Linked DNA regions of Homo sapiens. The protein of the gene in region 3 interacts with the protein of the main gene of each other region in a pairwise test. Each region holds a gene or a part of one and is shown on either strand. Other genes may lie near its edges. The genes, in order: HNRNPF, NFYC and KLF15.

What was found.
Region 1: the proteins of KLF15 (region 3) and HNRNPF interact in binary tests that used the Homo sapiens proteins (3 or more experiments, as listed by UniProt).
Region 2: the proteins of KLF15 (region 3) and NFYC interact in binary tests that used the Homo sapiens proteins (3 or more experiments, as listed by UniProt).

The regions. Positions count from the first base shown.
Region 1 is NC_000010.11:43,388,535-43,392,282, forward strand, and holds part of HNRNPF (heterogeneous nuclear ribonucleoprotein F), read right to left. Parts: intron 1-3,748.
Region 2 is NC_000001.11:40,743,701-40,747,448, reverse strand, and holds part of NFYC (nuclear transcription factor Y subunit gamma), read right to left. Parts: intron 1-3,748. UniProt on the Homo sapiens protein: Component of the sequence-specific heterotrimeric transcription factor (NF-Y) which specifically recognizes a 5'-CCAAT-3' box motif found in the promoters of its target genes.
Region 3 is NC_000003.12:126,355,322-126,359,069, forward strand, and holds the start of KLF15 (Krueppel-like factor 15), read right to left. Parts: upstream 2,088-3,748; 5' UTR 1,916-2,087; exon of another isoform or gene 1,786-1,915; coding exon of another isoform or gene 1,754-1,785; intron 1-1,753. UniProt on the Homo sapiens protein: Transcriptional regulator that binds to the GA element of the CLCNKA promoter. Binds to the KCNIP2 promoter and regulates KCNIP2 circadian expression in the heart. Is a repressor of CCN2 expression, involved in the control of cardiac fibrosis.

The DNA.
Region 1 (3,748 bases), on a different chromosome or scaffold from region 3:
TCAAGTATGAGGCCAAACTGATGACATATACAGACAAGCAGACAAATTCACCAGCAGACTTAGTTATGTGCACTGCAAATAAATGGAGAAACCAGATCAGATGATTCACAGGTTCACATAAAATATAGCAGAATTGCTGCCTTGTGCTGAAGATCTGGAAGAGGGCATCGGGAAGAAAGGGCAATCGCAAGAGGGCTGAGAAATGCCCTTCCCACCAGGGTGGTACATGGCACCTGAAGTCCAAACTCAGAGTAAGGCCAACCACACACTGGAAGGCAGTCTTCTGAGAAAGAGGAGCAGCTGACCTAGACAGCAGGGTCTATAACATAGTCACAAGCAAGAAAAACACTGCAGTATCATGGGGCCAAAGACGTATTTTTATATGAACACTGTCAAGGGTGACGCTCAAAAAGAGCATAGGAGTATATGGAATTTTTTTTTTTTTTTTTTTTTTTGAGACAAGAGTCTCACTGTCGCCCAGGCTGGAGTGCAGTGGTGCTGTCTCGGCTCACTGCAACCTCCGCCTCCTGGGTTCACGAAATTCTCCTGTCTCAGCCTCCTGAGTAGCTGGGATTACATGCACCAGCCGCCACGCACGGCTAATTTTTTATACTTTTAGGAGATACGGGATTTCACCATGTTGGCGAGGTTGGTCTTGAACTCCTGACCTCAGGTGATCCGCCCACCTCAGCTGCCCAAAGTGCTGGAATTACTGGCGTGAGCCACCATGCACAGCTGGAAATCGAATGTTTCAAAGTGTCATTTTACATCAAGCATAATAGATATAGCTGGTGGCCTTTTCAAGAAATATGGGCTCATCATGTGGGGAAAAAAGCTCCATAAGAAAACCCCACAATTTAAAAAACAGACAAAAAGTAAAGGTAAGTGTAATTTAAGAAAAGGAAAAGCAAATTCATACTAAATAAATGCTCAACTGCACTAGCTTCAGGGAAAATTAGTAATTTTAAAGTTTGATGTAGCCATTGCAGATAATGACATATTATCATACAGTGCTTCATCATTTCAAATTGACAACGTCTAAAAGGATAATTGTGTAAATCTTTCAAATTTACCTGTGTCTACACCAGATTATAAAGATAACAAGATGTGTCTCCTCTCCCAATAACAAGCATAATGGCACAAATGAAACAGAACAGTATGTGATATCCTGAACACATCACCAAGACCAAACACTCGGCATTTACTCACGAACTGTGATTTGGAATGCAAGGGCTTTCAAAGTATACAGCCTAACTAAAAGATGTCACCCTTGCTAATGAGAGTGGAACATGGAAGCCTCTGGGAAGAGAGTCAAGGGGAGCCTAACCTGGATTGCTCATTGCCCACCTCAAATTATTGACTATGTACATAAACTCCATCAACTTTTATAAAATAATCCTGAACGGCAAATGATTGGGCATAAATAATCCTATCCCCAATTCTCAAACTGTGCTTTGGGTCTGCAACAAACCCTGGGGTTTAGCCTCCACCTTAGAAAGTAATGGTCTCCGCCTCCCCAGGGCCTTATCTAAATCCCCTGCATATGGCCACTGCAACATGCTGATCTGGCAGAGCAAGGTCACAGCAGATTCTTCCTCTCCTGTCCACGGAGGGAATTCTGTGCTAACAGTTCAGAAGCTCCTCCTTGGAGAGTCAGGGCAAGTTTGTATTGTGTCTCTTGGGATAATGGGTCTGGGACAGCTCAATTACAGGTGGGGGCTTCTTATGCAATTCCATTCCCAACACTGGGTCAGGCTAGGCACCGCCTGTCCTTTTGTCTTTGACCATACCCTGGTCTTGCTCCTCACTCATGAAAAGTATCTGAAGGCCTCCCTCGAGTTCTGTTCCTAGCCTTAGGTCCAGCCATCGTTCCGGGTAGGGGAGATGAAGCCATAATCCACTAACCATTTTCTCCTGGACTCCTACCTCCAATGATTTCACCATTCCCTGCAGGAAACCCCACCTAATCACATCCTACTCCCTCCACCACAACTGCTATCCCCCTCCTTTGTAGAGACCTTGGCTTCCTTATCCACACAGCCTCTTTCTCTCCTCATTCTTCATAATCCAGCTTAGAGCAAGTATCATTTTACATTCCTTCCTCACAATACATGGAATTCATTCAATGAACTTCTTAACTGTACGCGCCCAGTAAAACCAGAGCTCTGGAAGATTCCAAACAAATATCTGACTACTCCATGGATGTACTGAGTGGCTCAGCTGCACACAGCCAGGCGAAACGGTGCCTCTAAGCTACAATTTCTCAGCCTCAGGACTACTGACATTTTGGACCAGACAGTTCTTTGTGTTGTGGAGGCAGGCCCAGGCACTGTAGGATGTTTAGCTGCATCCCTGGTCTCTGCCCACTAGATGCCAGTAGCACCCTCCACCTCCAGTTCTGACAACCGAATGTCTCCAGACATTCCCAAATGTTCTCTGGTGGCTAATGCTGCCCCCAAGTTGTGAAATACTGTAGAAATCAGGGTGAGGCCAGGCACAGTGGCTCCCACCTATAATCCTAGCACTTTGGGAGGCCGAGGTGGGTGGGACCACTTGAGATCATGAGTTCCAATAGACAAAACCTCTGTCTCGACTAAAAATACAAAAAACTAGCCGGGCGTGATGGTGGGCACCTGTAGTCCCAGCTACTTGGGAGGCTGAGGCAGGAGCATCGCTTGAACCTGGGAGGCAGAGGTTGCAGTAAGCCAAGATCGCACCACTGCACTCCAGCCTGGGCGACAGTGCAAGACTCTGTCTCAAAAAAAAAAAAAAAATTACCTGGACGTGGTGGTGGGCGCCTGTAGTCCCAGCCACTACGGAGGCTGAGGCAAGAGAATCACCTGAACCCAGGAAGCGGAGTTTTCAGTGAGTGGAGATCGCACCATTGTACTCCAGCCCGGGTGACGGAGCGAGACTAACTCCAAAAAAAAACCCACCACACAAGAAAAAAAAAAGAAAATCAGAGTGAACAGCCATAGAGTAAGCGGGCCCTCAATATCGCCCACTGTCCTACCCCAGCACCCTGCTTGTCCAAAGCCCTTCAGATGTCTGGGGCAGCCTTACAGACTCTCACCTCCTCTCCAGCTGGTTGACATTACTCTTGGAAGTGGACTTTGTGAAGTCAAGTCAGAGTCCAGGAGTTTGTAAGCACGTAGTGGGCCCCTTACAGCGGACATCGTGAACAACAGCTCTGCTCTGGGTCCAACCTCACATACCCCGGAGCCATGCTTTCTTCTTTTTTTCCTTTTCCCCTTTCTCCACTGAGCCCTGTCTACTTGGTAATTAAACATGCTCAGTTCTACCCAATCATGTCATACCTCCCCTGTGCCAACTTTGCCTCTAGCTACTTGTTGATTTGTTCAGCAAAATCTTGTCAAAAGGCCTCTACTGTCACTTCCACTCCCCTCCATTAAAACTGCATGATCAAGGCCACGTGTGGTGGCTCACCGCCTGTAATCCCAGCACTTTAGGAGGTCAAGGAGGGTGGATAACCGGAGCCAGGAGTTCAAGACCAGCCTGACCAACATGGTGAAATCCCGCCTCTACCAAAAATACAAAAATTAGCCGAGCATAGTGGTGGACACCTAGGTTGAGCGCAGTGGCTCACGCCTGTAATCCCAGCACTTTGGGTGGCCAAGGCAGGCAGATCATTTGAGGTCAGGAGTTCCAGACCAGCCTAGCCAACATAGTGAAACCCTGTCTCTACTAAAAATACAGAAAAATTGGCCGGGCACAGTGCCTCACACCT
Region 2 (3,748 bases), on a different chromosome or scaffold from region 3:
TTGGTCCCTCTCTTCAGGAAGCGTATGTCGGGAGAGAAGGTACAGATGAAATGAAGAAAATACAAGCTCCAGAGCAAAATTCTTCTTTACTTAACATATGCAGGTCTTCAAAGAATTAATGGGCTTTAGAAAAAGCTTAGGATGGCCTCTAACAGTGCTCTCATGAAACACAGCCCCAAGCAATATCTGTTTTTTTTTTTTTTTCGTCAGCACAACATAGAGGGACATTATGAGCGCCTTCTTTTTTTTTCCAAGTAAGTTTACCAGTCTGCAATATGCAGATTAAAATGAGATTTCTGTCTCAGGGGTATTCCTCTAAACTGCCAGTTCTTTCTTCCATTCAGTGACCAAACTAACAGCAACGCCGGGGCACTTGACCACAGTGATCCACAGTTCTTTACAACTGATAGTGGCCATTTCTGACATTTGCACTAACCTGACAACAGAAACTGGGGAGGAGAGCTCCTTTCTCATCACAGTAGCAATGGCCTTGTCTCCAAAATTTGTTTCAAGTGGGGGTAGAGGAGTATAGAAAAAGGATGAGGGTGAATTTGTCAGCTGCCTTTTAGGAACAGCTGTGTTATTTTTTCTTAACAAGCCTGGAGTGGGGGAGGACCATATAACTTCACTGTGGATATAGTTTAGGAAAGGGCTTTTTTGATCAGCACTACTCAATAATTTGAGACTTAAGCCCTTTTTTGTTTTATTTTGAAACTACTGGTATTTAAACACATGCCCAATGATGGATGCAATTCTAGGAAAAAAATCAATTTTGAGTTTCAGAGCTGCAATGAAGAGGAAGGTGCAAAGGCAGATATTAGCTAAAATCAGCAAAATCTCTACTGGGACTAGGTGTCAAATGATTGATTCTATAAGTGGTCTGAAATGTGACTCACTAAACCTAATATGCTCACCTGGGAATTTGCATCATCACATTATGGAAGGAGCATATATTATTTCAGATTTGATGTAATTAACAAGCATAAGTGAACTTTCTTTTGCAAGACCAACAGAAAATCTCAAATATATGTCAAAAAAAGGTATTTTGGAAAAACATCAACAGTCTTCCCAGAACCTATTTTATGATTATAGAAAGAAGAGAATCTATTAGGATAAAATGTACACCAAGACATCTAATTTTTCCATGCAAACCCAACAAGCTGCTTGGCTACCACTCTGCTCTACAAACTTCAAACACCAATTTTTCATCTTTTCCTTTTCCAAATTAGGTATCAACATTTTCCATGAACCCTCTACTAAAACTAACCCTGGAGTAACAGAGACTTAGAAGTTCAGTTTATTAAAATTTCAACAAAAGGAAACAGTAGCGCAGGTTCATTCTATTCTTGTTTTTCCCCTTGCTCTTTCATTTACTGATTCAAGCAACTCAACTAATAGTAAATGTATGATACCTACTACTATGCAAAAAATACACATGTAGGCCAGGCATGGTGGCTCATGCCTGTAATCCCAGCACTCTGGAAGGCTGAGATGGGAGAATCGCTTGAGGCCAGGAGTTTGAGACCAGTCTGGTCAACATAGTGAGACCCCATCACTATTTAAAAAAGAAAGAAAAAAAATACACATCTACTCCTACCTTTGAAGAGCTTGTGGTTTGTCAGAGATAGTCACATAAAAACATTATAATCCCCTACCCAATACTGGAGGGGAGGGATCCCCTGCGGGGACACAAAGAAGGACATATTGCTAGGGACAGCTAGCAATGTGGGGCTGGAGGGAGAGTGAGGGATTGGGAAATGTTCCACAAAGGGGATGACATCTGAATTGTGTCTAAGGGATGCTGGGAATTTGCCTGTTGAAAAAGTATGAGAATGTTATTCAGACAGAACAACAAAGACAGAGAGAGAGACAAAAAATCACAGCCTATTTAAGTTTTAGATCTACTACCTGAGTATAGAGGGGAAAAGCAGGAAAGAGGATACTGGGTTGGGGCCAGATCCTAAAGAGTTTTTTTAAAAGTTTAATCCCAGAAATCAACCACTGGTCTTCCTTCTTGTGTGGCATATCACAGAAGATGATGACACTACATAGAAATGCCAAAGAGAATGCTAGGGATGATCATTCCTTTGGAAAACCTCCCAGGCTAATACATACAGCACAAGATGATCATACATTTAGCTCTCTTGCAAGTGTGCTCTTGTTTGGCTTGGTTTTAAATATAATTTGTACAAGAACGTTCCATGATTACTTAACTAAAGCCCAAAGTTGATAAAAAAGACCTCTTTCCCCAAATTGAAAGAGTAAACTATTACTCCTTCAATTTCTCTTCTTTAATCAAAAGCAACAAAAGTCAAGGATCAAGAGATCATTCCCGCCTTGCAGAGATGTAAAATGAGGCAGAAATTTATAATAAGCTCTGCTTTAATCCCCTTCCCAAAGCTTTTCTTTGTGACAAACTATTTTTTCATGTTCCTGAAACCTTGAGATCTCAAGAAGCAGTGTGTAAAAGTGGATCTTGAGGGGTGTGTATGGTTCATCCCTGTTGACAATCACCCAGTTTTCTATAATCCTATCCTAGCCTTCTAGTTACATGTAAGGATTTACCATAAGCTTGTTGGAAAAGGGAGGCCCTCTACAATCAGTAGATTGAGGCCCACGAAACTTGGATTCATGCTCCCCACTTCACTAGCTACCATGTAACTGAAGTGAGTAACATTTAACTCCTTAACTCCTTCTCCTGATACTGATTCAACTGGAAGAACAGCTGACACACACTGCTCCCCCCTACTTTTGGGAGTTCTATCAGTAAGGCAGAAGAGCAGATTATCTCTCAGAACATTCTCATGCTCCTGACCACTACCAAAGAACTACGTTAAAAATGCTTCCATCTGAAACTGCTGCATTTCAAGACAAATTCAAATCTGAATTCACTCAATGAGAGTTTGGAGACAAAGAAAAGTCAACAGATCTTGGGCTGCACTGAAGAACATCCAGAGTTTCAAATAATAAAGAGAAACCTTTTCCAGGCCTACCCAGTCAGGCACTCTGGCAAGTCAAGATTCTCAACCCTTTGAAATCAATGATTCTCAATCTTGGGGCTGCAGGTTAGAATCACCTGAAAAGCTTTTGAAAAACAAGATGCCTGAGCTCTCTCCTGGAGACCAACTGAATCAGGAACTCTAGGACAGTGGTCCCCAACCTCAGGAACCAGTTTTGTGCAAGACAATTTTTCCAGAGATGGGCAGGGTGGGCATTAGATTCTCATAAGGAGTGTGCTACCTAGATCCCTCACATGCGCAGTTCATGATAGGGTTCACATTCCTTTGAGAATCTAATGCCACTGCTGATCTGACAGGAGGTGGAGCTCAGGCAGTAATGCTTGCTTACTGGCTGCTCACCTCCTGCTGTGCAGCCCAGTTCCTAGGTTCCTAACAGGCCATGGACCCATACCGGTCTGTGGCCCAGGGGTTGGGGACCCCTGCTCTAGTGGGTAGAGTACTGGCATCATGTTTTTTGAAAACTCCCCTTGTGACTATGATCCAAGTGAGAGTTAAGGACTACTGTTTTACGGCCCTGCTACTCAAAGTAAGGTCCTTGGACCAGCAATGGTATCACCTGGGAACTCAAAAGAAACACAGAATCCCAGGTTCCGTTCCTAACCTACTAAATCAGCATCAATATTTTAAGAAGATCCTCCCTCACGTGGTTCATACAGACAATAAAGTTTGAGAAGCACTGCTCTACAGAAAGGGCTCACACAGCACAGGACCTGTTTTGTAACAGTCCA
Region 3 (3,748 bases):
CAGGTGGCCCTATCTCCTCGCAGCAGCCCAGCACCTGGGCCCTTGGGACTCTCTGCAGACCTCACCACCAACTGCCTCTCTTCTAGTCCAGGTGTGCTCACTTCACTTCAGCCTCAGCCCGGGGCCACTGCCCTGGCTCTTCCCCCAGCACTGCAGGTGGGAGCTGCTTAGTTAGATCTCGGCTCAGAAGTCACCCCTGTGGGGGCCTCCAGGCCCACTCTGTTACATCATCCTATATTATACTCTTCCCTGCAGTTTCTACTGTGGGAAACTATCTTGGTGATGTGTTTGTGAACTTTCCTCCCTGTCTACCTTCCCATCAGAATATCAGCTGTCCTGACTGTTCACTCCAAGGCCATATCCCAGAGTCTAAAACAGGACCGGGCAAAATTTGCTGAATGAGTGAATGGAAGGTGCGGGGGAGAGCGGGGGAGGTCGGAGAGTAGGAATGGGTGGCCCAGGTCAGCCAACAGGGTCTTAATGCTGGGCTGAACGTCCCAAGGGGGAAGCACCCAGGCACTGACAACCCAGAAAGGGCTCTGGGATGTCCCAGGGCACCGGCATTAAAGAGAGGACACTCTAGGGCTGGAGCTGGCTCGGCCCCTGAAACACAGCAGCACGTGGGGCGGCCAGAGGCGCAGGCTGCGTGCAGGGGGAGGGGACACGCTGTTCCGGGCACAGTCCCCGGCTGGCCGCCGGACTCCGCCCCCTCCCCTGGCCCGGCCAGGCCTGCTGTTTATCCTCCCGGGGACACAGCGGCTGCAGGAACAACATGTAATTGATAACAAGCCCAGCGCCGGCCAAGGGCTTGCCATTGGGTCAGCGTGCAAATCACGGGGGTGGCGGCGGGGGCTGTCCTTCAAAATAAGAGTCTCCGGTCCCTGAGCCGCCCGCAGGCCCCAAAGTCGCAGAGTCCGGGCGTCCTCACACCTGTAGGGCGGCAGGGTCTCCCCAGGGGCCACCTGGTCCGGGGGGACAGGGGGAAGGAGATTTGAGGCTCTCAAACAATTGTTGATTTTGTCACCTCCGAGGGCCGTGGGAGAAAACAGCCCCTCTGTGCCCTCCGTGAGAGGGGGGTTCCATGAGTAACACCAAGGCGGGGAGGGAAGAGTGAACCGGACCACCATATGGGATGGGGACGGCCTCTCTGCCCCGCCGCCGCCATCCCTCGGTCAGGCCATGGCTTTGGTAATGTTCGGTCTGAGCGGACGGGGACTCAGCGTGGAGTGAGACGCGTGAACGGTGCGGGTGTGCGTGAAGGGGTGTGAGTTCCTGTCGTGTGACTGCGTGTGCGGGGCGTGGTGCGCGGCAGCCGCTGTGGCTGTGCGGGAGGCTGTCCGCGAAGGACTCGCGCGTGGAGCCGCCGTGGGTGCCGGCGGGTGAGGGGAAACGTGCGTGGGAAATGAAGAGAGCCGGCTCAGACCCCTTCTAGAGTCCTGGACCGCTGCCCGCTGGGCACCATGCCCTCGTCCCACGCCCCCCCCTTGCCCCCGACACTGCTGCGGTGACCGACAGTAACCCCTCCGTCTCCAGCCCCTCCGCCCCCCAACCCCGGGCTGGCCAGCGCGTCCGCTCTCCCCCTCCTCTCACCAGGCCGCGCCGGTGCCCACCATATGGGAGGGCCGGCCCGCAAGGCGCGCCACGGAATCGCCCGGCCAGGCACCGAGGCGGCGGCGCGGGCCTCAGCAAAGTGCTGGTGGGCGACCGGGGCGGGGGGGGTCACCTCCCCCGGGCCAGTCCGACCCCTGCCCACCTCCGCGGGGGCCCATCCCGCTCCTCCGACATTCCTCCAGCACTCGCGCGGTGCCTCCGAGAGCTGCGCGGGAGCACGGCCACGCGCCCCGAGGCCGGCCAGCCCTCTGATCACCCGGGGCCGCGTCCACGCGGCCGGCCGGCCCCGCCGCGCCTCTCCCACCTGAACTTGGCGCACGCCGGACCGGCGGCCAGGCCCCGGCGGTCCTGCGGCCGGGCGGGCTGGGCTGGGGGCGGCGGCTAGACTCTCGGTCCGGCGGCGGCCGGGGGCCGAGCCGCGGGTCCTGCGCTGGCTCGATCGCCCGCCGGCCCGCGGGTCGCTGCGGCGGAGCACTAGCCCGCCCGCAGCTCGCTGGGCACTCACTCCCCGCCGCTCACGTGACGCAGCGGGCGCCGCGAAGGCTCGCAGGAGGCTCGGCCCCGGGCGCGCGCCCCATTGGCCCGCGCTGCGCGTCACACGTCCCGCCCCGCCCTGGCCCCGCCCTGGCCCCGCCCCGGCCCGCCCGCGCGGCTCCCGGACTTGAGCGGCGGATGCTCGGGGATCCCGGAGCTGCCAGACGCGCACGCCCCCCAACACGCTGCCTGGTCCCTGGCCCGCAGCCACCTCCTTGCTTCCCACCTCTCGCCGCTGTCTCGCGGCGTCCACGAGGGCCGGCTTCTAAAGCTCGGTTCCCAAGGTGAGAACGTGAGACTGGCCTGAAGACTTAAGAAAAGCTCTGAGATCGCCCCAAAGTGCAGTCTGCGTGATTGAGCGGGAAGCGCTGGGGAGCCTGTCTGGCCCGGTCTGGCCCACGTCCCCACCTTCATCCCCAGCGCGGTACAAGCAGCTCTGTCCCCCGCTGAGTGTCAGATAAATCACTTGCCTAGAAGGACGTATTTTTGGATAAATACGGTATTGGGCTTTCAGCAGGACAATCAGTTACCCTCCGGAAATTGCGCGCGCTCTGCGCTGCCACCCTGCCCTCCAGGACTAAGGAGGTTTGCTGACCGGCCCCCCCCCCCCCCACCTGAAACCAATGACACCTTGTCTCTGGGGCACCTTTCTGAAGACCAAACAATGCTTCGCAGTCTACAAAAGCGTTCGTAGACTGCTTTAGTCCGCAGCAATCCTGGCTCGCATTTGGGTTCCCGCTTAGAGACAGGAAGAGTAAGGCTCAGAGTGGCTTGCCCAAGAAAAACACGTGGGCTGACGGTGCTAGGCACCCTGCTGTGCCCTTTAATCCACACTCCAGCTGGATCCTCAGCCAAGCACTTTACAGATGAAGAAACCGACTCAGAGAGGGCACCAGCCCTCCCCAGCCCCACAGCTGGGAAGGAGCAGGTAGAGAGGTAGAGCCAGGTCATCTTGCAGACACCCCCAGGCCACCTGTGCAGAGCTGTCCTACTGAGCTTCCTTCCTCTCCCCTCCTGGCACTGGGAGGTGGGGAGCATTTTCTCCTGCTTCTTCTTGAAGACATTGCTAGAACAGGAATTTTTAACCATACCCTTTCCAGGCTCTCTGGAATGCTATAGGTCTAGGCTTGCTTGACCAGGGATCTGGGGACACTGTGCACCAGGTCAGTGCCAGGGATTCAGCTGCTGCTGCCACTAGGAGCCAAACCAATGCGTTGCCAGAGGGCTTTAAGGACATTTGTGTTGAGGATGGTGAGAGGCTTTCTAGTTCACAGAAGTTGGAATGACCACTCTGGCATTACAGCAGCCCTGGCTAGCCTGGGCAGAACAGTGGAATTTGTCCATTTTCATAAGAGAAGAGATAGAGGCCTGTATTCCTCATTTTGTCTCAGTGCAGGTCTGGATTGGGCATAGCCACAGCACTTCTCCATCTGCCCTGCCCGCCCTCGGTCTTCACTCCTCACATACTCTCAGTCTAGTGCCTCCCATCTCCTTGGTGAAAGCTGCAGCAAAAGGTCAGAAAAAGCTTGGAAGCAAAGACACATCGTTAGCACCTTCAGCACACAGGGAGGAGGCCCCACTGGCTAGAAACTGGAGAACAGCC